Linked DNA regions of Homo sapiens: regions 1 and 3 are each linked to region 2. The links come from fine-mapping of genetic effects on plasma protein levels. A gene starts in region 2. Each other region holds a variant in brackets. All regions are shown on one strand. Distances are from middle to middle.

Region 1 (8,174 bases), 14 kb after region 2:
AGGCTGGTCTTGACCTCCTGGCCTCAAGTCGTCCTCCCGCCTTGGCCTCCCGAAGTGCTAGGATTACAGGCCCGAGCCACTGCATCCTGCCTGGTCTAGGCATTTCTGAAGAGCGGGGCCGGGGAACAGGACTCTGAATCTCCACGTGGGTGACTTCCACTTTTCTGAGAGCGAGTGCTGTCAACTACATGACTTGGGTCAGTAGACAAGATGTTCCTTGGGGTTCTAAAAATATGTCATTCTGTGGGTTCCCTTTATAACCTACAGGGCCAGAAGGGGCTGCATGCTCTGGGACTGGGGAAGGAGCAGAGGCTGAAAGCACTGGTTGATTCAGGCTCTAGTTGAAAGTTGGCCCTTCCCCAGAGCAGGAAACCAAGGCCCCGAAGAGAGAGGACTTGGATAAAGTCACACATCTACTTAGTGATAGGGCCAGGACCGGAATCTAGACTTCTTGATTCTTATTTCTGCGCCCTCTCCCTCTTACACAGGGAGCAGTGAGTGTGCAGGGCAGCCCAGAGGCAAGGGTAGGTGCCTGCCCCCGCAGGCTGCAACTGCTAGGCTAGAATGTCCAGAGCTCCAGCCTTGCTGGGTCCTACACCACACCCGTCCTACACCTACATCCTTCACTATGCCCTTGCAAGAGCCTTCATCCCTGCCCTCATCTTGGCTCCCTTCCCCACAGTTCACACGCTGATCCATGTTTCTCAGCTGTCACATTCCCTAAACTGCTGGTCGGGTGAAGGTCCCCTCCCAAGTGTTTTTTTTTTTTTTTTTTTTTTTTTTGAGACAGAGTCTTGCTCTGTCACCCAGGCTGGAATGCAGTGGCGTGATCACGGGTCACTGTAGATTACCCTCCCAGGCTCAAGTGATCCTCCTACCTCAGCCTCCTCCTACCAGCCTGGCCAACATGGCGAAACCCCATCTCTACTACAAATACAAAAATTAGCTGAGCATGGTGGCAGGTGCCTGTAATACCAGCTACTAGGGAGGCTGAGGCAGGAGAATCGCTTGAACCTGGGAGGCAGAGCTGGGATTACAGGTGTGCACCATCATGCCTGGCTAATTTTGTTTATGTTTTGTAGAGACAGGGTCTCACCATGTTTCCCAGGTTGGTCTTGAACTCCTAGACTTAAGCGATCTGCCTGCCTTGGCCTCCCAAAGTGCTGGGATTACAGGCATGAGCCACTGCGCCCAGGCCCCTCCCAAGTTTTGACAGTGGTTGTTTTCTAGGTTTCAGAGCTCTTGGGAAGGAAAACTTTCTGGGAGAGTGGGTCTTTGAAGACGAAAGAATATGGGAAGAGAAGGGCATTTGAAGTCCTCCATGGGGCTCCTAGAAGTGGAGGTAGTGCTTCCAGCAAGCACAGGTGGCAGACCTGGCTGGGTGTGCAGGGCACACATCACTGCCTCTGGTGCACCCGGGTTCAGGCTGGTCACCCTCGGAATAACTGTTCACTCATTAGGAGGTGTGACTATCATCTGACCGTGGGAAGCCAAGTTTGACTGCTCAGGTGGTAAACCTCTGAGTGCTTTGGATTAAATTTTGCTGATTTTCTGTACTCTGACCGCTTTTCCTCCCATGCCCCCTGGCTCCTGGCTCCCTGCGCTGTGCTGCTGCCCACCTTCGCCCCTTGCCAGCATGTACACAGATGCACATGTGGCCTTGCATATACGTGCACATGCATGCAGACACATGCTTCTTTGCCTGTGGAAGGTGGTAGTAATAGTCGTTATTTCAGTGGGATGTTGTGAGGATTAAATAGGGCTGTGTGTGCAAAGTGCATGCACAGTGTCAGCATTTAATACATCATAGCCATGATGAACTATAGGCATGAGCCTAGTTCCCACCTCTGACACATAGATACAATAATATGTCTGCATCATAAGCCTATTGTGAGGATTAAATGAGGTGACACATGTAGCAGCTTCCTGTGAAATGCAGAATGCCTTATGCATTAAAGGCAGCGATGTAATGAGAGAACCAGCATCACTGATTCAACACACATCTTCTGTTTTTTTTTTTTTTTTGAGACGGAGTTTTGCTCTTGTCGCCCACGCTGGAGTGCAATGGTGTGATCTTGGCTCACTGCAACCTCTGCCTCCCAGGTTCAAGCGATTCTCCTGCCTCAGCCTCCCTAGTAGCTGGTATTACAGGCACCTGCCACCATGCTCAGCTGATTTTTGTATTTGTAGTAGAGATGGGGTTTCGCCATGTTGGCCAGGCTGGTCTTGAGCTCCTGACTTCAGGTGATTCACCTGCCTCGGCCTCCCAAAGTGCTGGAATTACAGGTGTGGGCCACCGTGCCTGGCCCAACACACGTCTTCTTAAGAGGAGCAGAATGTACACAAATGTCTTATCCTATTTCCAACTTTTGGGCTTTTAAGTTATCTGAATGTGTTTCTGGCCAACGATGCTCAGTAAGTTCTTTGAGATATCCACCCCGGAAGCCCTATCCTGCCTTTCTGCGTCCCCTGGGAATACTTCCTGTCAGGGTTTTCTGCTGGAGGCCCTAGGTTCTGTGGCCAAGTTAAGCTTCAGTACAAAACGAGGGACCTTCCTGCTTAGGTGGCCATCTCTCTATTTCATGTATCTTTCTTCCTAGCAGCCACTGAGCGTGTGTCCCCTTGAGCTTCTGTAGCCAATGAAACTGTGCCGGGATGGGGTCTGGGGTCCACCTCAATGCTTCCTCCCAGCCTGATCACTGGCATGGGTGGGTCCTTGGCCAGCAGCCCTCTGGCTGAGAATCTTAACTTAATTCATGGTTGGCCAAAAGGCAGCCCAGCAAAGACCGAGGCTGCTCGAAGCTGCCTCTGGGTGGGAATGGGACTGGCTTCCTCCCTGTTGCCTCAGCGAGCCTCCCTTGGCTATGGGAGTCACTGTTTTTCTGGTCTGGAGGGCCGTCTCTCTATAAAGTAGTGGCCCTTGTAGTTTAATTTTGTACCTCCTAATTTCCTCCCAGAGGACCTCCCTGCATAGGGTTTGGGCAGAGTGTTTTTGGTGAAGCCACAGAGCTCTTCCTGGGTTTCCTCCCTCAGCCAGGTTGATTCTGTGAACAGCCCCACAACCTCCTAGGAAGAAGAGCCCAGCTGGAAGGTGCTGGGCCTGGTGAGGTTGGAATGAGATGAGCTGGAATGTCCTATAGGATGTCCTTTCTTCCCTTCAGGTCCCTTCTGTCACTGTCTCTAACTTCGGGCTGGCTTCTGCTTCTCCCCCACCCGGCAGGACCTGTGTGGAGCCACCACCTGTGACACCCTGGGCATGGCTGATGTGGGTACCATGTGTGACCCCAAGAGAAGCTGCTCTGTCATTGAGGACGATGGGCTTCCATCAGCCTTCACCACTGCCCACGAGCTGGGTAAGGCTGGATAAGCTCCTCCTGGGGTCTTCTGGGTTTGCCTGGGGAGCCTGGAGGGTGGGAGACGTGTGTCTTTGCCCCCTTGTGTTCTGAAGCCTTAGGACCCCTTCTTAGGGCACAGTGAGCCTTAGCAGCAGCTTTGTACTTTTTCCGATTGCCCCAGCCCCGCTGGCCAATGACGTGGTTTGAGCCCCTTGGCAGAGTGTCTCAGCACTTAGGCACTGTGGGGACACCATGTTAACGACAAGGAGGTACACTCTGTTGTCAGGGAGCCCACAGCCTGACGGAGGGGACAGAAAACACAAGAACATGATCTTGAGGACATTTGAAAGCAGTCTGTCGATAGTTGGCAATGACCAGCCTGAAAACCTCTGACATGGGCTTTCTAGTTCCCCTGCCCCATTCCTCCCTCCAACCCCCATGTCCTTCCTCCTGCCCTCTCAGTCCTCTTGCCTTACCCCACAGGCCACGTGTTCAACATGCCCCATGACAATGTGAAAGTCTGTGAGGAGGTGTTTGGGAAGCTCCGAGCCAACCACATGATGTCCCCGACCCTCATCCAGATCGACCGTGCCAACCCCTGGTCAGCCTGCAGTGCTGCCATCATCACCGACTTCCTGGACAGCGGGCACGGTAAGCCAGGACGGCGGGAGGGCAATGAGGCCGCCTCGGAGGGGGCTTTGCTGCTGCCCCTGGTGGAGGTGCTCACTTCTCCGTCCTCTGTACATTAGGTGTGTGTGCCCCCTCGGAGCCGGGCTCTGACATGAGTGCATTCCTGTTGCCCTTGGTTCATTATCCCCTTACCATTCAGATTCTGGGCTAGCCAAACCTCATCTTCCCAGCTCATCCTAACGAACGCCCTCGGCTCTCTGCAGGTGACTGCCTCCTGGACCAACCCAGCAAGCCCATCTCCCTGCCCGAGGATCTGCCGGGCGCCAGC[T/C]ACACCCTGAGCCAGCAGTGCGAGCTGGCTTTTGGCGTGGGCTCCAAGCCCTGTCCTTACATGCAGTACTGCACCAAGCTGTGGTGCACCGGGAAGGCCAAGGGACAGATGGTGTGCCAGACCCGCCACTTCCCCTGGGCCGATGGCACCAGCTGTGGCGAGGGCAAGCTCTGCCTCAAAGGGGCCTGCGTGGAGAGACACAACCTCAACAAGCACAGGGTGAGTGAGTGCTGGAGCTGCGCTCGGGGACTGCTGGGAGGAGGGATGGAGACCCGGGGGCCTCGTCTGCCCTTGGTCTTCACCAGGAAGGTGCCTATCACAGACTGGCCACGGGACCAGCACTGTTGCATGGCTGAGCTGTGCCTTCACTGCCCTGTATATAGTCCTATCCCCTTCTTGACTCTAAGACCGGAGAGAAAAGCTATGGCAGGTCAGAGGACTTGGTGAGGCCTCAGACACATGGGGAAAAGCCTTCAACAGGACGTGGGGTCTCAGCCCTGAGCTCCGGGCCTCGTCCTACCTGGGGAGGAGCTCTGGGCTCAAAACTGAACACATAGTGTCAGGAGCGGCTCACTCGCTGGCTCATCCCTTCCTTCTCTCATCCACTCTTTCCCAGTGTGTTCCACACCCAGGGAGCTGGGGACCATGCTCAGGAACAGGGCTCAGAGCTGCAATGAAGCAAAGCCCTGGGCAAGCTTCGGGAATTGGCTGCATTCTGAATCAAGCTTCCATTTCTGTTGCGATTGCTGTTTTTCTTTAGCAGGAACATAGTTGAATAATACTTGTTTTCCCTCCTGATAAATACGAATAGCAACCAAACAAGAACACATTCAGAATGCCAAATATTCTCTGTATATAATAACTTTATCTTGTTCAGGTCTTGTTTTGGGGGTTTTGGGGGTAGGAGAGGGATTTGTACTTTTCCGGGCAGGAATAAGAGGTCTGTTCTCCTCCCGGATCCTGGAGCTGACTGTCCCTTCCCATCCCCTGTTCTCAGCTCGGGGACGACTTGCCTCTGGGCACAGAGGCAGTGTCACAAAAAAGCATCCACCAAGCACATTATCAATTGCCCTGAGATGAGTATGGCACAGAATTATTTAAAATGTTTTTCTGTGTTCTGGGGATACATGTCTAATTAAACCTTCAACCGTTGGCTAGGCAAAAACCCACTGTGTTCAGGGAACTGTGTAAGATACTGTGGTGGTCAGAAAAAGAAATAAAACACAGGCCATGCCTCAGAGAGCTCACAGTCAAGTGGGGAAGCTCGAATTGTAGCTGTGATACAAGACACAGAGAGGCACATGTTATGCGGAAGGACAGAAGGATGAAAATTGTCACGGGAGAACCAGGGTCAAGAGATTAATGATGATGAGAGGGGGCTGAGAAAACTTGGAGGAGGTTGGATTTGAAGAGAGGCTGAGGGATAAGTAGGATCCCTGTAGGCAGAAACAGAGCAAGGCAAGGAGGCGGGCGGTCCTGGGCAGGTCGGAGTGAGCTGCAGGGCTGTGTAGATGAGGGCTCTATGGGAACCATCTTCAGGAAGGTCATTTGGGGCCAGACAGCAGCCACCTTGATTGCCAGGCACTAGAAGGTCCTGAGGACAGGCAATATGTGGCCAGTGCCTCGTCCTGAGAAGATGAGGCTGGAGGATGCAGAGACAAGGTGAGATAATATTGGATAGAGAAAATGCAGTCTGAGAAGCACCATCTTTCCACACTTTCTGGAATTCTGTCTATGATCAGGCAAGATCTACCTCCTCAACCTCTTTTCTAAACAATCCCTTGGCCACCTTGTTTTAACTGAAACTTTCCAGGAAACCTTCATGGAAGTCATTGCCCTCACTGGCTGAGGTCAGATCATAAAGCATGTCTTACAAATCACTGCAGCTCCCACAGATCTGTTTCAGGAATCCCATTCTGACCACCAAGGCCCTGTCTTCCCAGATTACTCCCTCTGGGTTTTGGATTCCAACAATTCCTCAATCCCATCTGGGCCTACAATCTATTGCTACAACAACCTTCCCATCATGCCTCACCCTTCCCATCATGCCTTCCCATCATGCCTCACCCAGTGAGAAAAACATGCAATTGTGCTCACTGGTCTCAGTTTAAATTCATGATCTGAGCTGGGCACATTGGCCCCCACTTGTAATCTCAGCACTTTGGGAGGCTGAGGCAAGAGGATCCCTTGAGCCCTGGAGTTTGAGACCAGCCTGGGCAACATGGCAAAACCCCATGTCTGCAAAAAATACACAAATTAGTGGGATGTGGTGGCAGATGCTTGTAGTTCCAGCTACTCAGGAGGCTGAGGCAGAAGGATGGCTTGAACACGGGAGGCAGAGGTTGCACTGAGCCATGATCACGCCACTGCACTCCAGCCTGGGTGACAGAGTGAGATCCCATCTCAAGGAAAAAAAAAAAAAAGAAAAAGAAAAAAGTAAAATAAATTGATGACCCAGAAATTTAGGTGGGCCCATAATGCTGTCCAGGAGTCATATATTTCATTTCCCCAGTTGGCTTACTCTCCCAACCTCCTGAACCGTTAGTTCACACCCACCATCACCTCTCTCCTCCCATTACTAACTCTTTCTTCCTCCTTTTCAGCTTTCACTGATGACCTTTCTTCTCATTTCCCGACGGGGGAAAAAACCAAGTAATCAGAAGGGAACTTCCACCCACCTCCCGACCTGCTTCCGCACCTGTTCTCCACTGTCCCCCTTTACAGTGGCTGAATTGTCCCTGCTGTGATCTGAGGCCATGCTGTGTGCTTTGCGCGGGAACCCCATCCCCTCTCGCTTGTTAGGGACATCGCTGATCAATTCTCTCTCTCCTGCAGTGCCAGTATTTCCCAATCTTGAGCTGAATCATGCCTTTTAGAATACAAACCTGTTGTAATTTCTCCCATCTGAAACAAAACTTCTTATGATCCCACTTCCTCTGTGGTCTGTTTCTCTGACTCCCTTCACAGCAGGTTCCCGGAAGGAGTTGTACAAGCTTGCTGTCTCCAATTCCATCTTCCCACTTTTCTCTGCTGCCCATTCCAAACAGGCTTTGACTGACATCATTTCTCCAAAACAACTCTTATTAAGGCTACCAAATGGCCTGCACACTACGAAGGTCAGTGACTGTTACCTTTCCTCCCATCGTCCAGCCGGCTAGCAGCATTTCTGGCAACCCAGAGCTCTGGGCCCTGGAACAGGGTCTCCACTGCCTCTCGGTTGTCCTCCTCCTCCTCACGCTGCCCCTCCCCTTCTCATTACCTTTACTGCTTCTTCCTTGTACTCTCATTTTCTTTTTTCTTTTCTTTTCTTTCTTTTTTTTTTTTTTTAAGACAAGAGTTTCACTCTCGTTGTCCAGGCTGGAGTACGGTGGCATGATCTTGGCTTACTGCAACCTCCACCTCCCGGGTTCAAGCGATTCTCCTGCCACAGCCTCCCCAGTAGCTGGGATTACAGGCGCCCGCCACCACACCTGGCTAATTTTTGTATTTTTAGTGGAGATGGGGTTTCATCATGTTGGTCAGGCTGGTCTCGAACTCCTGACCTCAGGTGATCTGCTCACCTCGGCCTCCCAAAGCGTTGGGATCACAGGCGTGAGCCACCGCGCCCGGCCTGTACTCTCATTTTCTGAAGTTTGGAGTGCTTCGGCACTCATTCCTTTCCCTCTTCACCATCCACACTCAATCTCTTCGCTGATTCATCTAGACCATGGCTTTAAATACCATTTAGAGCTTGAAGACTCCCAAATTTGCATCTTCAGTCCAGGCCTCGCTCCTGACCTACAGACTTGCTTCTCTAAGGGAATCTGGACGTGTCCATTGGACACCTGATTAGCATCTTATACATGTGTCTGTGAGACTGAGCTCCTGGTCATCTCCCCTGA
Region 2 (8,174 bases):
GGAAGCCCTCCTTTTGATGAGTTTCCAGACAAGTGTGGCTGCAGCCCAGTCTCGGGAAAAGGGATGAACACACAATTAGCAAAGGGCAAGCGAGTTCAAATGGACTCTGCCTATGCTGGAAATGGGATGCATATATGCCAGAGGAACTAACAAAAAAGAGCAACCAGAGCTGTGTGAGTTAAGTCAAGGGGCTTCCTATAGGAAGTGAGGGTTATATAGGCAGGCATGGATGAGGCTGAGAGGCCATTCTGTATGGGAGGAAAGGCTCACATAAATACGCATGCTGAAAGAACACTTTCTGAGCAGGAGCACTCAAGCTAATGAATTTAGCTAGGGCCAGGCTTTCAGATGAAGAGTAAAGAGAAACGATTTCATGAGATGAGTAGAGAAACTGGCTGGGTAGCCTTAGGCAAGTAACTTCCTTTCTCTGGACCTCAGCTGCCACACCTATGGGATGAAGGTAGTGGGCTAGGTGACTAGGGTACTAGGCTAGGTGACTGGGGTATTGGGTTAGGTGACTAGGGTACTGGGCTAGGTAACTAGGGTGCCAGGCTAAGGTTTTTGTCAGAGAGATGTAGAAATACATAATTATGAGAGAAGTATGTCAGGCACTCGCTCTATGAGAGAGCCACATTTTCATTGTGGAGATGAAGTATCTTGTCCAATATTTTACAGACTGTAAGGGACCAAGCTGGATTAGAATTGGGTTGATTCATTTGCTCAGTATCTTTGGAGCGCCCCTGTGAGCCCAGCACTGTGTCAGGCTCTGGGAGATATAACAGTGAACGAGATGGGGAAGGTCCTGCTCTCATTTTAACGGAGGGAAGTCAGTCAAGAAAAAAAAAAAAGATCTAAGTGAGCAAAATAGGTTTAGATAGAGAGATAGAGGTAAATGCTAGTGGACAAGACAAAACATGCAATCATGATTGTGACTTGGGACTTCTCAGATTGGGCGGTCTGGGAAGGCCCCTCTGAGGGGGCTGTACTTGGGCTGAGACCTGGAGGCTGTGAAGAGGCCAGCCTAGTTGGCGAAGGACAGAAAGGCCAAGCTGGGGGTCTTAGATCTGACAGATGGCTTAGACCCCCAGTCGTCCTCTGGGGGAAGAGCTGCTTTTTAAAAAATTTTCATTTTCATACATTGACAGGGAGTTGCTTTTTATTTTCCAGGGATGTTAAGATCATGGAGGGCAGGAGAAGCGAGAACTCCATGGCGGTTGTGGAGTCCCGTTATGGAAGTGGGACGTGGGAGCCAATGTGAAAGCTCCCGAGCAGAACTGGGAGAGGACACGCCCCAGAAAACTTCAGAAGGTGATGACAGCAATCAGCTTGGAGGGCCTAGCAGAGACTGATAGCACTAGGAGGAGTAATAATAATAGCACATAAGAATATTAGCAGTACTATTCGATAATATTTAAGGAACTTTTAAAATATACCAAGCATTGCCAAACACTTTGGAAGTATAATATTAACTCATTTAGTCCAGGCAGTGGGTAGAATTTGTATCCCCATTTTAATAATGAGAAAAGTGAGGCTTAGAGAGGTACAGTAATTTACCCAAGATTGCACAGCTAAGATCTGGTGGAGGCATGCACACAGGGCCCTCTGACCATGGGCTCTAAATCACTGTACTATGTTCCCTTCCATAGGCCTCAATCAGTCATGTAATATTTGACCTGGTCGTTATCTTAGGTATTATCTAGACCACAGATTTTGGATGCAGTTCTCTGGCTGAAGACCTCTGAGCTAGGATAACCCCTTCTCTTTTGACAGACGAGTCAGAGAATCAGATCAGTGATAGAAGTGGAGTGCCAATCCTGAGTATCACCTCTACTCAAGTGCTCAACATATCCCTAGATCCTCAATTCCCTGGCAAAAGTGATTGGATGGAACCACAGGCTTCCAAGAGGGGACAGTCAAGCATTAAATACGAGAATGCACATATAACTCTTGGTGCAATGTTTAGCACATACTAAGCCTGCAATACATGCTAATCCCTTTGAGCAAATCCACATGGCCAGTTTCTGTGCTCAGGGGTGAGAATAGCTGGGCTGTGATTGGGGCAGGGGGAGCACTAAGTGGGAGGGACTTCCTGTCTCAGGTCCCTGCCATCTTGACTGACATGCTGCAGCCCTTGCCAAAACCCATGGGTCAGAATGAAAGTAAAGTGCCGTTGAAAACCTTGCAATCCACCTTTAAAACTGCCGGGTGTAGTAAAACAATTGCTTGCCCCAAATAAATGACTTATCATTGCTGTTGGTTGTCTGCGTTTCTCTTTAATTATAGGCCCTCTTTGAACGCTCAAACACACAGGGCCTTTGTAAGCTTGAACTCCCTGTCTCACACACAGTCCTCCCATACCCATACACTCTCTTTCATTTGCAGAGTATAAACACCCATCTCTCACTCATTCACATAATGAATTTCAGCTCCTTGTGTCCCAATCAAGGAGAGGCCTCACTGGAATTATGGGCATCTGAGCCATCTTCATGTTCCAAGGCCCCAGGGGGCGCTTCCAAGAGTGGATCCTTTATGGGGAGAAGATAATGGGCAAAAAGTGCTCTTCACTGATGGACCAGTCCCAGCCTTTTCTCTCCTTGGACAATAGAGTTCTTCCCTTGAACAGCCACTTCCCTAAAAAAAATTCCAAAATTCTCCCACATCATCCCCTTTATGCTTAAAATCATCACACACTCCCTTCTTTGTCCTCCCCTCTTGCAAACTCAACTCAGAGCCCTTTGGCTCCAGAAAGATTTTCTAGGTATCAGGAGAGAGTAGCAAAGCCTCCCTCCTCTCCTTGCCTTTCTCCCTTGTCAGAGAAAGAAGTTGATTCTGCGGAGAGGTAAGAAGGATCTTGAGGTCTAGAGCCTGAAAAACTCCTTGGGCTGTTCTCCAAACTAGATGGGAACATAAGGTGCGATTGCATCTTCTCCAGCTGATACTCACTCGGCCTCCTATGCCAGTCCCCAGTCCAGGGTTTGGTCAAGGGTCAAATGAGATAATTTCATGGAGGAAGCCTGGCCCGATTTTTCTACTGTTTGCTGGAAGACAGCCTCTTCCTCTTGTAACTGCAGCCCCAGAACCTGATCTCCACATCCCTGCCAGGCAGGTAGCTGTGTACAAGGGCTCATCTTCCTGCCCCCAACCCCAGCTCTGATTTGCTTATTCAGGTGGTGTAAATACTTCTACCAGGACCTATTTCAAGCCATTGTGATGTCCCTGACTGGGGAGATGCAGGGCAGCACACCATTTAATATTTCCCTCACATTTCCACCCCATTCTGCACTCTTTTCTGGGAGTTGCTGTCTCAGAGGGTTGGCGGTTCTGGTGGCTCAAGACCATAAGTAATTATCAAATACTTAGGAAGCGACGGGTTTTGAGTATTTATTACCTTTTAAAAATGTACTTTGTGGCTAGGCATGGTGGCTCACGCCTGTAGTCCCCGCACCGGGAGGCCGAGGTGGGTGGATTGCTTGAGCTCAGGAGTTCAAGACCAGCCTGGGCAACACGGCGAAACCCAGTCTCTACCAAAAATACACACACACACACACACACACACACACACACACACACACACACACAAATTGGCCTAGCGTGGTGTCGTGTGTCTGTGGTCGCAGTTACTCAGGAGACCAAGGTAGGAGGTAGGAAACCAAGGTAGGAGGATCACCCGAGGTCGGTAGTTCGAGACCAGCCTGACCAACATGGAGAAACCCTGTCTTTACTAAAAATACAAAATTAGCTGGGCGTGGTGGTGCATGCCTGTAATTCCAGCTACTTGGGAGGCTGAGACAGGAGAATGGCTTGAACCCGGAAGGCGGAGTTTGCGGTGAGCTGAGATCGCGTCATTGCACTCCAGCCTGGGCAACAAGAGCAAAACTCCGTCTCAAAAAAAAAAAAATATATATATATATGTGTGTGTGTGTGTGTGTGTGTGTATGTATATATATATATGTATGTGTATATATATGTATGTGTGTGTGTGTGCATATATATATATACACTTTGTTTAATTGTAAGTGTGTTTAGTTTAATTTTTAATAATGTCCGTGATTAACAGCTGGCTGGCAAGATTCCTGAGAACTGAAGAGTTTGCCCCAGCCCATCCAGCACACCATGGGCCCAGGGCAGACCTTGGGGCTAGGCGGTCTTGGGTTCCAGAGGGCTCCCATGCCCCTGTCCTATTGCTCTTCTGGCAATAGGACATTTACGCGGGGGGGGGGGTGGTTCTTGATTCTGGGTCTTTTAGGGGACTCTGTGATTAAGAAACAGCAGGGATGTTGCAACAGCAGGGATGAGGTGGGCCTGGGGACGGGTCAGTGAAGGGTCTTCATTCCTAGCTGCTGACCTGATCTGCCCTGAGATAAAAGACTAAGACCCAGAGAGTGAACGCTGTCCGCGGGGGCAGAAGCGAGTGAGGCGTCGGGACAGTGGGGCATAACCAAGAGCAAAACGCAAACTGAGACTTCAGCGCCGGTTTCTCGGGCCAGCCCACGCCTCCTGCCTCAGCTCAATGCCACTCCCTCCCCGCCAAGTGGCTCTCCGCTCTGGAGGCGGGACCGAGTTCTCCGGTGGCCCCTGGAGGCTCCGGCAGCGAGCTCTGGGAGGCTGGGAGGGGAGTGAGGGGAGGGGCGCTGACTGGGCCGTCCAAAGAGGAGGGGGCCTTTAATAGGCTCGCCCAGCGCCTGGCTTGCTGCGCTGCGAGTGGCTGCGGTTGCGAGAAGCCGCCCGGCACCTTCCGCTAGTTCTCGGCTGCAAATCTTCGTCCTTGCACTTGACAGCGATTGTACTTAAGCTCCCAGGGCGCGCTTTGCTTGGAAAGGCACAGGTAGGAAGCGCGGGCTGCCGGGTGCACGCTCGCCGCCCTGGGAGGAGTCTCCCTCCCTTGGCTCTCCTTTCTGGGAACTGCCGGCTGTCCCGTAGCGTTGGCGGTTCCAGAGTGCGGGCTGCACGGAGACCGCGGCAGCGGCCGGAGAGCCCGGCCCAGCCCCTTCCCACAGCGCGGCGGTGCGCTGCCCGGCGCCATGCTTCTGCTGGGCATCCTAACCCTGGCTTTCGCCGGGCGAACCGCTGGAGGCTCTGAGCCAGAGCGGGAGGTAGTCGTTCCCATCCGACTGGACCCGGACATTAACGGCCGCCGCTACTACTGGCGGGGTCCCGAGGACTCCGGGGATCAGGGACTCATTTTTCAGATCACAGCATTTCAGGAGGACTTTTACCTACACCTGACGCCGGATGCTCAGTTCTTGGCTCCCGCCTTCTCCACTGAGCATCTGGGCGTCCCCCTCCAGGGGCTCACCGGGGGCTCTTCAGACCTGCGACGCTGCTTCTATTCTGGGGACGTGAACGCCGAGCCGGACTCGTTCGCTGCTGTGAGCCTGTGCGGGGGGCTCCGCGGAGCCTTTGGCTACCGAGGCGCCGAGTATGTCATTAGCCCGCTGCCCAATGCTAGCGCGCCGGCGGCGCAGCGCAACAGCCAGGGCGCACACCTTCTCCAGCGCCGGGGTGTTCCGGGCGGGCCTTCCGGAGACCCCACCTCTCGCTGCGGGGTGGCCTCGGGCTGGAACCCCGCCATCCTACGGGCCCTGGACCCTTACAAGCCGCGGCGGGCGGGCTTCGGGGAGAGTCGTAGCCGGCGCAGGTCTGGGCGCGCCAAGCGTTTCGTGTCTATCCCGCGGTACGTGGAGACGCTGGTGGTCGCGGACGAGTCAATGGTCAAGTTCCACGGCGCGGACCTGGAACATTATCTGCTGACGCTGCTGGCAACGGCGGCGCGACTCTACCGCCATCCCAGCATCCTCAACCCCATCAACATCGTTGTGGTCAAGGTGCTGCTTCTTAGAGATCGTGACTCCGGGCCCAAGGTCACCGGCAATGCGGCCCTGACGCTGCGCAACTTCTGTGCCTGGCAGAAGAAGCTGAACAAAGTGAGTGACAAGCACCCCGAGTACTGGGACACTGCCATCCTCTTCACCAGGCAGGTGAGTTGATCTGCCGTCACTTTGCACCCAGATAGTCCCGTTCTTTAGGGTCACCTCCCCTAGCGCTCCAAATCCCCTTTGTATCGTGCAATGCCTCCGAGTTTAAACCTCGTTGATCTCTTCCGACTCCAACTCTGTGGAGTTTCCAGGGAGAGCCCTCTCCCACGCTCCGCGGAGCGGCGGCTCACGTGCATCTGGGCCATTGGAGGAGAGCCTGCGCTTTCCGAAGGTGTTGGCCTGGCGCGGCCAATCAGCGCCTCCTGGATCAGGCGCCGAGGGGCCGGAACCCAGGAAGTTGCCGCCCCGGAGCTGCAGTTTGTGTCCAAGACCGATAGGAGACGCCGTGAGGATGGTGTTGGAGAGGGCGGGAACGGCCCACCCCTATTGTATGGGCGGCTGAGTCTTCTCGGACACCTCCTGAGGTCTCCTTTCAAGGGTTGTAGAACTGAAGGTGATCCAAGGTCAGCGCTTGCTACATTTCTCTCGGGTAACACGTTGTCCCCTCTCTGTACTGGGCCTGGAAAGCCTGGATTGGGGTGGAGGGAATCATTGAGAGATTTTGTGGGTTGCAGTGACAGGCCAGACTCAAGTACTGCGAGCATCCCTCCTTCACTGCCGCTTCTCCTACAGACTTCTCTGCTGGGCATGGTCCAAGAGGCTTCTAGACCATTCTGAGCAGGCGGTGTAGTTAGGGCACCTGTTTGGAGCTGAGACTGTTTCACTTGGAGTTTCAAGTGGAGTTTTACTTGGAGCTGAGTTGGGAAAATCTCTTCCAATTTTCCTGTATCCTTGCTGTCAGAGGGTGACCCGTTTGCCCAGATGTATACTACAGAGCAGAGCGGGCATGCTTGCTCCTGCTCCCAAGTCACTAAAATTCCTATGACCACACTTGACTTCAGGGCTCTAGCTTCTGCCCTTGCTGGGGTGGAAGTGGTGTGAGCTTAGTCAAGAGTATTTGGAGATTCCAGCTGTAGAGTTAGAAGGAAACTGAGTATTGGGATTAGAAAGATGGACCCAGCCCAGGAAGCAGCCCTGCCTTTTGCAAGGCCTTTCCTGATATTCTATGTCAAAGAAGCTACAAATCTGCAAACGTTTAGATTCACAGGTGTTGGAGTGATTGGGCACTGAGGAGTATTTGGATTCTTGAAATTTCTCAGATACAGGAGGCTGGGAGGAAAAGAGCCATCCAAGTGAGCCTCTTCTTCTGATTTGGGGGACTGTGACTTGAATCTGTGCCATGCTCTTTTTTTTGGTTATTATCATAACCACAGCACTCTGGGGATGGCGTGGAATCCTTGGTTACCTGTGGGGCTCTAACTCTCCACTGTTTCCAAATGGTCACTCAAAGTTGGACTGGCGCACACAGTCTGGAGCTGGAGTCTTCCACAGTAACCCATTTGGCACAGCTAGTCCCTTCCTGGAGTCGAACTTCCTCTGTTCCCAGCCTTCTTCTCCTCCCACCACCTGGTTTCTCTAGGGAGGTCTTTGGCCTGAGTCTGTTTCCTTGTGCTCATTCTTCCAACTGAGGTCTGTTGAGCTGCCACTGCCCAGCCTCTGCAAGCACTGCCTGAGTCATGGGGAAGCTGCAAAGGAGGTGGCTTTGACCTCTGCACACAGACCAGCTTGGCAGTTAGATTGCTGGGGCTTGAAAAAAAGCAAAGGCCAAGAACAGGATATCTTAATGGGCAAAGCAGCTGTTGCCCCATTCGTTACCTGGGCTGCCCCAGTGCAGGTCACTCACTGGCTCCAAAATAAAAGACCTCAGCCTCTGCAGCCTGGTGGTGAAGGCTGGCTTCTGGAGTCAGCCCTAGGAGAAGAACTCCTGCTGGGAATAGGGACCATGCCGTCAGAAGGAGGCCGCCTTTTGAAGAAGAAGCAATCAAACAGCATGACAGCTTCTATTTCTCAGTGGTGTGTGCTCAACCCCCCGGGGGCTGTGTTGTCCATGCATAATGGGTACAAGATGCATGACCACTGGATCAGAAGCAGTGATGTGCAAAATGTGACTTTTAGAAGCTGCCTTCCCCTTAGGTGCCTAGAGAGCAAAGCTAGAGAGTGAGGCTTCTGTGTGGTCAGGGCCACCATCAAGGTATGTACTTTATGCTTCAGAGGAAACCCCTCTTCCCCACCTCCTCAGCAGCTCAGACTTCAGGGCCTACTGCATTCTGAGAGTCTCAGGATCTTCTCACTCCTGAT
Region 3 (8,146 bases), 30 kb after region 2:
TGTGGGCCACGGAGGCCGGCTGCTGGCCCGGGACCAGTGCAACTTGCACCGCAAGCCCCAGGAGCTGGACTTCTGCGTCCTGAGGCCGTGCTGAGTGGGGTCATCGCTTTCTCCCCCTCACTCTCCACCCCACTGATATGCCAGCGTTCTGCCAGCTGGAGTAGCGGGCAGAGGACGGTGGCCAGGGGCTCACGCCACGATGTCACCCACATCCGGGGACAAGGACCATGGGCTGGGGCGAGAGGTTCCCTCCTCCTCCCTGGACTGGGCAGAGGGAAGCCCAGGAACTCCCGCACAGTCTACCTCAGGCCCCGCTCCTCGGGCCGGTTGCGGGGAGAGGCTTTGAGGTGCAGGGCAGAAGGTGCTGAGGCCCAGTTTCCAAGGAACTTGGAGGATGGGCACCTTCCAGGCAGAACTTCAGGGACCCCGGCCCCCAGAAC[G/A]GAGGCCACAGGCTGCTGGAAGAGCCATGTCCCAGCAGCTTGGCACCCTCAGGTGGCCCCATGGGCTCTGAGCCGTGTCTGAACGAGGCAGGGTTTTCACGGTGCTTTTAGCCCACTTTCCTTTTTGAACTGACATGGACTAAGCAATAAAAGCTGGCTGGGGCTGGGCAGAAGCCACGGGGAGAGTGAGATTAGGGCCCCTGGAGCCTGGCACTCCACCTTGGAAGACGTGGACGTGCACAGGGAGTCCCGAGGTTTCTCATCCTGCACTCTTGGCCCTCCTATAAAGAAGCAGCCTCTCCTTCCTCTGATGTGCAGGGTGTAGGACTAGTGGTAGGGCTGCCACGGAAGTGTCCTCTGAGGCTCTGCAGGTAGCGGGGAAAGCCAGTAGGGAGTCTGCTGTCTTCTTCAAGATGGAGCCGGCCATTACAGAAAGATGTTGACATTTGCTAGGGGCTATGCAGTCTGTGGCTGATGCAGGGAGTTTTCAGAAAGTTCTGGAGGGTTCTGCTGTCACTGGACTGGGGTTGGTGCTGAGCTCTGGGCCTGGCTTTGGGAGATGTCACCCTGGGATAGGGAGGAGGAAGCTGCATTTCTAATGGCTTCCTCCTCCAGAGAGGCACGTATATGCAGGCTGACATCCGAGGGTCTGTGTCGCCTCAGACAGCCCTGACAGTGGCCACAGTCCCGTACCCATTGTGAGGGGCTGGGGCATGCCTAGGAGGGCTAGGTGCTGAACATCTATGTGCCTATAAACTCGTCTTCGTTCCAAACAGCTACTGCTGTCTGCCCTGGGCACGTCACGTTGCATCCTAGGCCTTAGCTTCTCCACTGTTTGCTACCTCAGATTATGCCCTCTGGGAACCCAGCCGTATCCCTCCCCTAGGACAGTGGTGACCTGGTCCTTCCACCACACTCAGTCTTTGGAGAGCGAGCTGTCCAGCCACAGAAATGAGGGTGTGGTGCGTGGCTTCCTGCTCCCCACAGCCCAGCCCCCTGTTGGGGCTCCAAAGCCGAAGACAGGGCCTCTTCAGACTCCTTGGGAGTAGGTTTCAGGAGGCACCAAGAATCAATGACTGACCCAGGGGGCCTGGCAGCCACTAGTATGAACTGCTGGAGACCTGTCTGTCTTATAGACATGTCAGGAAAATAGAAACAGGCATTTTCTCTAGCTCCAAGTGGGGAGATATTTTGGGGTCACAGCTTCTTTGGCTAAGCAGGGTGTTTCTTGAAGGTTCAGATGCCCCACTGTGTACATGGGATATTCTGCTTCTGAGTGTAGGTGATGAATCCAGGTCCTCAGTGGAGAATTTTCTGGAGCTAAGATCAAAGCATGTGTCTTCCTGGGAGAGAAGAGTTCCGTTCTTTTATGTGGGTTTCCCTAATAGTCAGAATCCACAAACCAGCCAGCCAGCCAGCCAAGCCTCTGCGATGATGTTCTCATCCGGTCTAACGCTGGGCTGGAAACCTTGGACAGAGTTCATGCGGGGGCAGAGGGGGTGCCAGTCTCTGAGGCAGGGCTGCAGTCACCCCTGAAGAACTAAGTGAACAGGAACCCCTCTGTGCCAGTGACCACTGTGGGGCTAAAGGGACAAAAAGGACCAGGGTACCAGGCAGAAGCAGATCCTTGATAGCTGACGACAGCACTGCGCCCTGTGCTTGGTGCACTCCCTCCTTCAGGAGGAGAGGGTGGCATGGGGTCTGTGCGGGATGGCAGGGGGATTGGGTGGGTGGGAAGAGAGGTGCCATCGGTAGGAGGCTGGCCTCCAGTAGAGGAGAGCAGCTTTTGCCATCAGTCACTTTACAAACCATTTCAAGGAAGGACAACCTCTCTGGCTCCTGACACAAGCCAGGCCTCGGTGCTTTTATCTGTTGTGGTGGTTTTTCTTCTTTCCCTTTTTAAAAGACGCATGACCAAGACAACCTAGGGAGTTTGTCTTGCTTGCCTTTGACTATTTCCTTAATCCAACCATGCTCTCGAGGGCTGAGCAGAGACTAGACTCAAGGCACAGGTTTCTGGTGATGGAGTAAAGTTACAGCGGTATCTCATGTCTACACAAGAAGAGGAACGTTCTGAAAGCTCCAACAACTTCTTGAGGGGGATGGACCAATACAGCTTTGGGCTCAGGATTCCCTAGCCTCCTCTGCCCATCGCGTGCACTGATTGGAGGAGTCTGGCCCAAACACTCTCATATGAACCTCGACATGCTGGAGTGGGGTCTGGCAGGAGCTGATGACAGTTTGAGGGACTTGAGTGTCCCTAGCCTGGCAGTTGGCTCCCGGAAGCACTAGACACTGACACTCATTGGTAGACCCTCCCTCCCCGCCGTTGTGTTTGGTTCTTTTGCACTCCATGTACTGCAGAAGGATGGAAGGACCTGGGTGCTGGCTGGGCTGTGTATACTGTGTATACAAGGGAGCTGGCTGCTGAGGTGACCACAGCCTTCTCCTAATAAAGCTGTAAGTATTTAAAACCTGTGTCCTGCCTCTGTGACTGCTTCTCATTCATGCATGCATTCCTCACATCCATGGAATGCCCAGCTTCGCCAGCCACTGTGCTAGGAGCTATGGAGACAGCAGTGACCTTGACAGGCACAGTCCTGGTCCTGTGCAGCTCCCAGGTTAGCTGAGGAGGCAGAGCTCAAGTCAGCAAGCAGAGAGTTGTGGCAGATCGTGCTACAAGTGAAGGAGACACCAACTGATGCTGAGAGTGGGAGCTTGGATGTGGGCGTTTGATCGCATTTGAACTTTTTCAGAGAGAAGGAGCTGAAAAAAGAAACGAAGAAAAAAAAGCTTGGGTGTGGGAGAGAGTGATCAGGGAAAGCCCCTCAGAGGAAGGGACAACGAAACAGATTGAAGGGTGAGACAGCAGCCCTGTTAAAAGGGGACGGGCCTTGTAGCAGACAAGCAGAAGGCCCAGTCCTGGGGGCCGCTGGGGCGGGGTTTCAGGAGTGCTTGAGAGAAGCTCTGGGGCCGTGCGTGGGTGAAGGGACGAGGCACGGGAGAGGCCAGAGGGGCCCCTGTCCTGTGGGCTTCCAGTCTCCTGCCTTAGGAGGAAACCCCAAGTGTCCCGAGGGAAAGGTTCCTTCTCTTTGGAGAGAGAATGTTTCTCTCTTCCTAGTTTTGTGCTGGTCTGGAAATGTTAGCAAATATACAGGCGTGGGAGAGGTGTGACGCATTGCAAAGAACATCTAGAAACTCGTGTTGGTCGCGGGTCTGAGATCCTCTCTTGGAATCCTCATTTCCTACCTGCAAAGTGAGAAGGGTAGATTCAGTGTTCTATTAGGGCACGTTCAGCTTTAGCAGTCTGGGTTTCTAGGCCCAGTTATGGTTTAGATTTTGCTAGCTGATGGTTTGTTTTCAGTTTGGGGTTCAGAGATGAAGGGGTTTCTCCTGTTGACTTTCCAGCAGGGCAAGGCCATGGGGAATGACTTCCTCTTGAGCTGCGAGAGCTGCCCCTTCAGGCATGTGGGTGAGGGATGTGGGGAGGTTGGACAAAGTTTCAGCACTTGATAGAAGGTTCTGGAAGAAGGAAGAACTAGCCAGAAGAGGCTGCATGAGTCTATGAGCTAGCAGAAGGCCCAGAAGGGAACTGCAGGGGTCTGGGTTAATGTATAAACTGGAAGTCAGCAATTGTAAGATCTTTCTAAAATTGCTCAAAATGTTGTCATATTCCTGGGGTTATTTTTGTAATCCTTTTTGTTTTCCATTGAAGCAATTGCCAGTAAAACCTTTCTAAGGAAAAGGTCCTCTGGGCTGCTTTGGGGATCAGCAAATTAAAGAGGAAGCAGAGGAGGCTGGGTCCCAACTACAGCGGCGCCTGGAGGCTCAGGAGAGCTCCAGGTAAGGCAATGGGGTGTGTGGCGGGCAACAAGCTTGGCTGCATTTTAAAGTTTCTGGAGAAGGAAGCAGCAGTTTCCTAAATTTGCTGGCCTTTGAAGAGAGGTAGGAACGATTTGCTTTGTAATCCATCCTCTGGAGGGGAATGCGTTCTTGCCCCAGTGAGAAAAAACCTTGATAATTACAAAAAGGTGTCGACCCCTGGGTCGTGCTCTGCCTGCCCAGTGAACCCTGGCGAGCCCCCAGCAGGCTGAGCTGGCGTGGCCAAGGGCAGCGCGTGTGACCCCAAGTGTCTTTCCTTTGCTCCTTGGCTTGTCTCCAGCCCTCATGGATGAGTCAGCCCTGAAGCCTGCAATCCCAGCAACAAATCCCAGAAGAGCAGAACATCCCCCTTCATCACTGCCATGGTGTCACCCCTCAGCCCCCGGCAGCTGTGAGAAGGCAGCAGTGAAATGTTTGCTGCTCCAAAGCATGAAACTGGGGAGGGAGAGGGCAGCCAGAAACTCAGCCTTCACCTTCCCCTCCCTTCAGGCCCACCCCTTCGTGCTCAGCTGGGCAGCCCTGCCTTTGTTTTGCTCTCCTGAGCTGTGGTCAGTAACGTAAGTCACGTTCCAAGCAGTGACCAGAATGTTGTGAAGGAGGAGATAAGAGTTCCTGACCTCCCGAGGCATTCCAAAGAAGAAACAGAACTATTTGTTTCCAAAGGAGAACAATTTTAGCAGAAAGGGTAAGATAGAGGGAGATGAAGAGAGGAGGGAATCTCCTCGTGAAAAACTGGATTTGGGAAAAGGGTGAAAATATTGTCATGGGGAATGGCTGGAATTTGATGAGATTTTAGCTGTACTCCTAGGCTGTTAGAAACAATTGCCTTCGTATCATTCCCCGTTCCTGTACCTAGCCACGGTCCCAGACAGTGTCCAGGGCCTTAAGCCACTGCTGTCCCAGACATCTGACCAACAGTTCAGATGACCTCAGGGGACTGGGATTCTGGCCTCAGCAGGGAGTACCCCGAATCTCTGCCATGGGTAATTGAGCAGATACTCCTGATGTGGTTTTGTTGTTGTTGAGGATTTTGAGAAAAGAGCCTTTGAGAGTGCTCTGGAAATGTGTTCAGGAGGATGACATGGCTTTTCTAAGCACCCTCCCTGGGCTGAGTCTGCAGTGCATGGGAACCTGGTTCTGAAGCTGCAGTTACACACAGCACCCAGAGCCCAGGGCTTGGGACACAGTCAGTGGTCAATGAGTATTTGTGACGCAGAGGCTTCCTTGGGAACACACAGTAAACCAAGAGGGATGAAGGAGCCTGTCTCCGGTGGAAATGTGGGGACGCTTCTCAGTGTAGGCACTGTCTGTCTGCATACATGGTCCTGTTTGATCTTCACCGCCTGCCCGGTGCTGCTGCTCCTTGCAGCCCTCTGCTCAGCTCACGCATTTCATACGCTTTCCTTGGGGATCACGTGCTATCTCACTGCTCAGTTAAAACCAACACATCAGTGGATTCTGCGTCTGCATACATAACCCTCCCACCCACCTGTGTTCACCCAGACTCCCCACCAACCCCACACAGACCACCCCAAACATCTCATTATTCATCCAGTCACATGACTTGATTCCACCTCCAGGATATCTTCAAACTTGGTCCCTTTCTTCCTTCCCACTGCTGCTGCTGTAGTGCAGGCCAGCATCATGTCTCACTGGAGTATATCCGTAGTCTGTACCTGTTTTCCCTTGTTTCAGATTCGTCCGCTTTCAATCTTTCCAGCAGGTGTGACATTTAGTGACAGCAGGTGCCCCATCTTGAGCTCTCATGGCACCCTCTGCGTCTTCTGACATTGAGCGAATTGCTTGTCCGTCTCTTTGGCTATACCCTAAAGACCTCGAGGGCAGGCTTTAATTGTCTTGGCACTAAGTGCTTGGCACACAGTAATCATATAATGATAATAGCCATCACCCAGCATTAACTATATATAAGCATTCTATTAAGGTCTTTACTTCTCTTATTGTATTTATTGTTCATAACAACATTATGAATTATATTCTATCACTGCCCCTCCTCGTGTATCAGGAAGCTGAGGATCAAAGATGTTAGGGACCTTTAGATATTCCCCCGACTTGTAAATGGCAGCATCAGGACTCCGAGCCCTGTATTTACTGAAGAAGTTGTAGAATGAACCGCTTAGCCTACTCCTCGAGAAACATTTTTTTGGGGGAGATGGACATGAGAAAATGATTATGATGGCGCATGAGAAGTGCTCCAACAGAGGTATGCTTCTAGATCTATGGGAATTATACACGAAGCAATTGCAGGAATCACTGAGTGGACCTGGGAAGGAGTCAGAGGAAATGATGCTCTTGAGCTGAGTTTTGAAGAATGAATAGAATTTGTTGGGCAGATAAGGAGATTCCTGGAAGTGTGGCCAGCACGTACGATGGCATGGAGGTCAGGAATGAAAACAGCTTGATGTGGCTGGACTGTAGAATACATGAGAGAGTGGTGGGCTTGAAGCCTAGGCTGGGCTGGGGTCTGATCATGGAGGGCCTTCTATGTTGCATTAGGGAGTTTTTGCTTTGTTTGACAGGCAGCAGAGAGCCATGGAAATATTTTAAATCAGACTGTAATTAGCTCACCACTCCAGTGAGCTGGTAGTAAGCATGGACTGGGATAGGAAAAGACTGTTGGCAGAAAGACCAAGTAAGAGGCTCCTGCAATAATCCAGATTTAAGACCATGAAAGCCTGGCAGTGTAAGTGGATTGGAGAGGATGACATAAATTCTAGAAATATCTAGGAGAAGTATGAGCTGGTCTTGAGTGCTAACCGTGTGCAGCGTATGACAATAAAAGCAATGTCAGAGGAAATGCAGATTAATGTTTTCCATCTCAACGACTTCCTTGCTTTACAAAAGAAGTATAAAATTAGGCCATTCCTTGACTCAGAGATATGAGCATGCAACAAGGGCAGGGGAAAGGCGGATGTACTTGACTTCCTCTTGGGATTAAGTTTCTAAAATATGGTACTGCCAGGATTCAGAGGGATGAGATGACTGATGGTTTCTCCTGTTGCTCTCACTTCCAACCACGCCTCCTTACCCACTGCCTTAGTTCCTGGCATCACATCCCTCAACCTCCAGCCTTAGTGTGGTGTGGTTAGCATGGCACCAAGAAGACATGGGCGAGTGAAAGGAAAAAATAGAGACCAGAAAAAACAACAGAGATAGTTCACGTACACTAGTGTGAAATCAACGATATGGTATTTCAAATGTACTTTAGCAGAGGTCGTAGAAACAGATTTATTTTTTAATATACCCCCTGTATCTTTCAATTAACTGTACATTGTGCATAATATATTTCAATACTGGTATCTCAGGATGGGAATAGCAGAAACATATGTTAGTGGAGTTGTATTAACTCTAGGGACAGTATCACTGGGTTACGAGATATTATGGCTCCACGTGTCTCAGCAACATATGTTACCCATAAGGAAGCCTGTGGCTTTAATGTGTAACACACTGTGGACTGGATTGGCAAGCGGATGGGACTTAGGTTGACAAAAACCGAAGATCTTCTGAATGAGAGGTTTATTTTATGTATTATATCTGGGCAAGAAAACCTTCCTGAAGCAATCTGGCTAAATCTCCTTGTTGCCTAATCTCTATCCGAAACGGGGATTCCAATGGTTTAGGCCACTGCTATTTTTTCCCCTAACATCCTAGGCAAGTTTGCACATATAGATTGCCTTCGAGATCATTAGATAAATACCTAGCTGCTGAATGGGAAAGTTTCTGTTAGTTCCCATGAGTCCAGGGCACTATGTCTTGGTAAGTTCACTTTAGTCTTATTTCTTTAAAAGTCACCTATTTAGACATGG

Direction of the effects. Alleles are on the strand shown, and positions count from the first base shown. The strength of an association depends on the size of the effect and on how common the allele is.
For the plasma level of the protein whose gene starts at base 4,693 in region 2, allele T in region 1 goes with a lower level than allele C (weak association).
For the plasma level of the protein whose gene starts at base 4,693 in region 2, G is the low allele of the variant in region 3 and A is the other (weak association).

The links. PIP is the chance, under the fine-mapping model, that this variant and not a neighbour inherited with it causes the effect. Protein levels are from antibody-based Olink assays in UK Biobank. Linkage for the fine-mapping came from a reference panel and not from the study's own genotypes, which makes the PIPs less certain.
Region 1: its variant is fine-mapped to the plasma level of the ADAMTS15 protein (UK Biobank, PIP above 0.99). The variant lies in the coding sequence of ADAMTS15. If it changes the protein, the assay may bind it differently, which can mimic a change of level.
Region 3: its variant is fine-mapped to the plasma level of the ADAMTS15 protein (UK Biobank, PIP above 0.99).

The regions. Positions count from the first base shown.
Region 1 is chr11:130,458,269-130,466,442 of GRCh38, forward strand. It overlaps ADAMTS15 (ADAM metallopeptidase with thrombospondin type 1 motif 15), which reads left to right. Exons shown (of 8, transcript NM_139055.4): 2 at 3,221-3,353; 3 at 3,819-3,986; 4 at 4,229-4,512. Among named protein-coding and RNA genes, the nearest start is that of ADAMTS15, 14 kb to the left of the region's middle. The variant T/C (reference allele first, on the strand shown) is at 4,294.
Region 2 is chr11:130,443,953-130,452,126 of GRCh38, forward strand. It overlaps ADAMTS15 (ADAM metallopeptidase with thrombospondin type 1 motif 15), which reads left to right and starts at 4,693. Exons shown (of 8, transcript NM_139055.4): 1 at 4,693-5,978. The coding sequence starts at 5,022. RefSeq lists an enhancer at 7,662-8,163.
Region 3 is chr11:130,473,728-130,481,873 of GRCh38, forward strand. It overlaps ADAMTS15 (ADAM metallopeptidase with thrombospondin type 1 motif 15), which reads left to right. Exons shown (of 8, transcript NM_139055.4): 8 at 1-2,918. The coding sequence ends at 94. Among named protein-coding and RNA genes, the nearest start is that of ADAMTS15, 29 kb to the left of the region's middle. RefSeq lists an enhancer at 3,960-5,159. The variant G/A (reference allele first, on the strand shown) is at 441.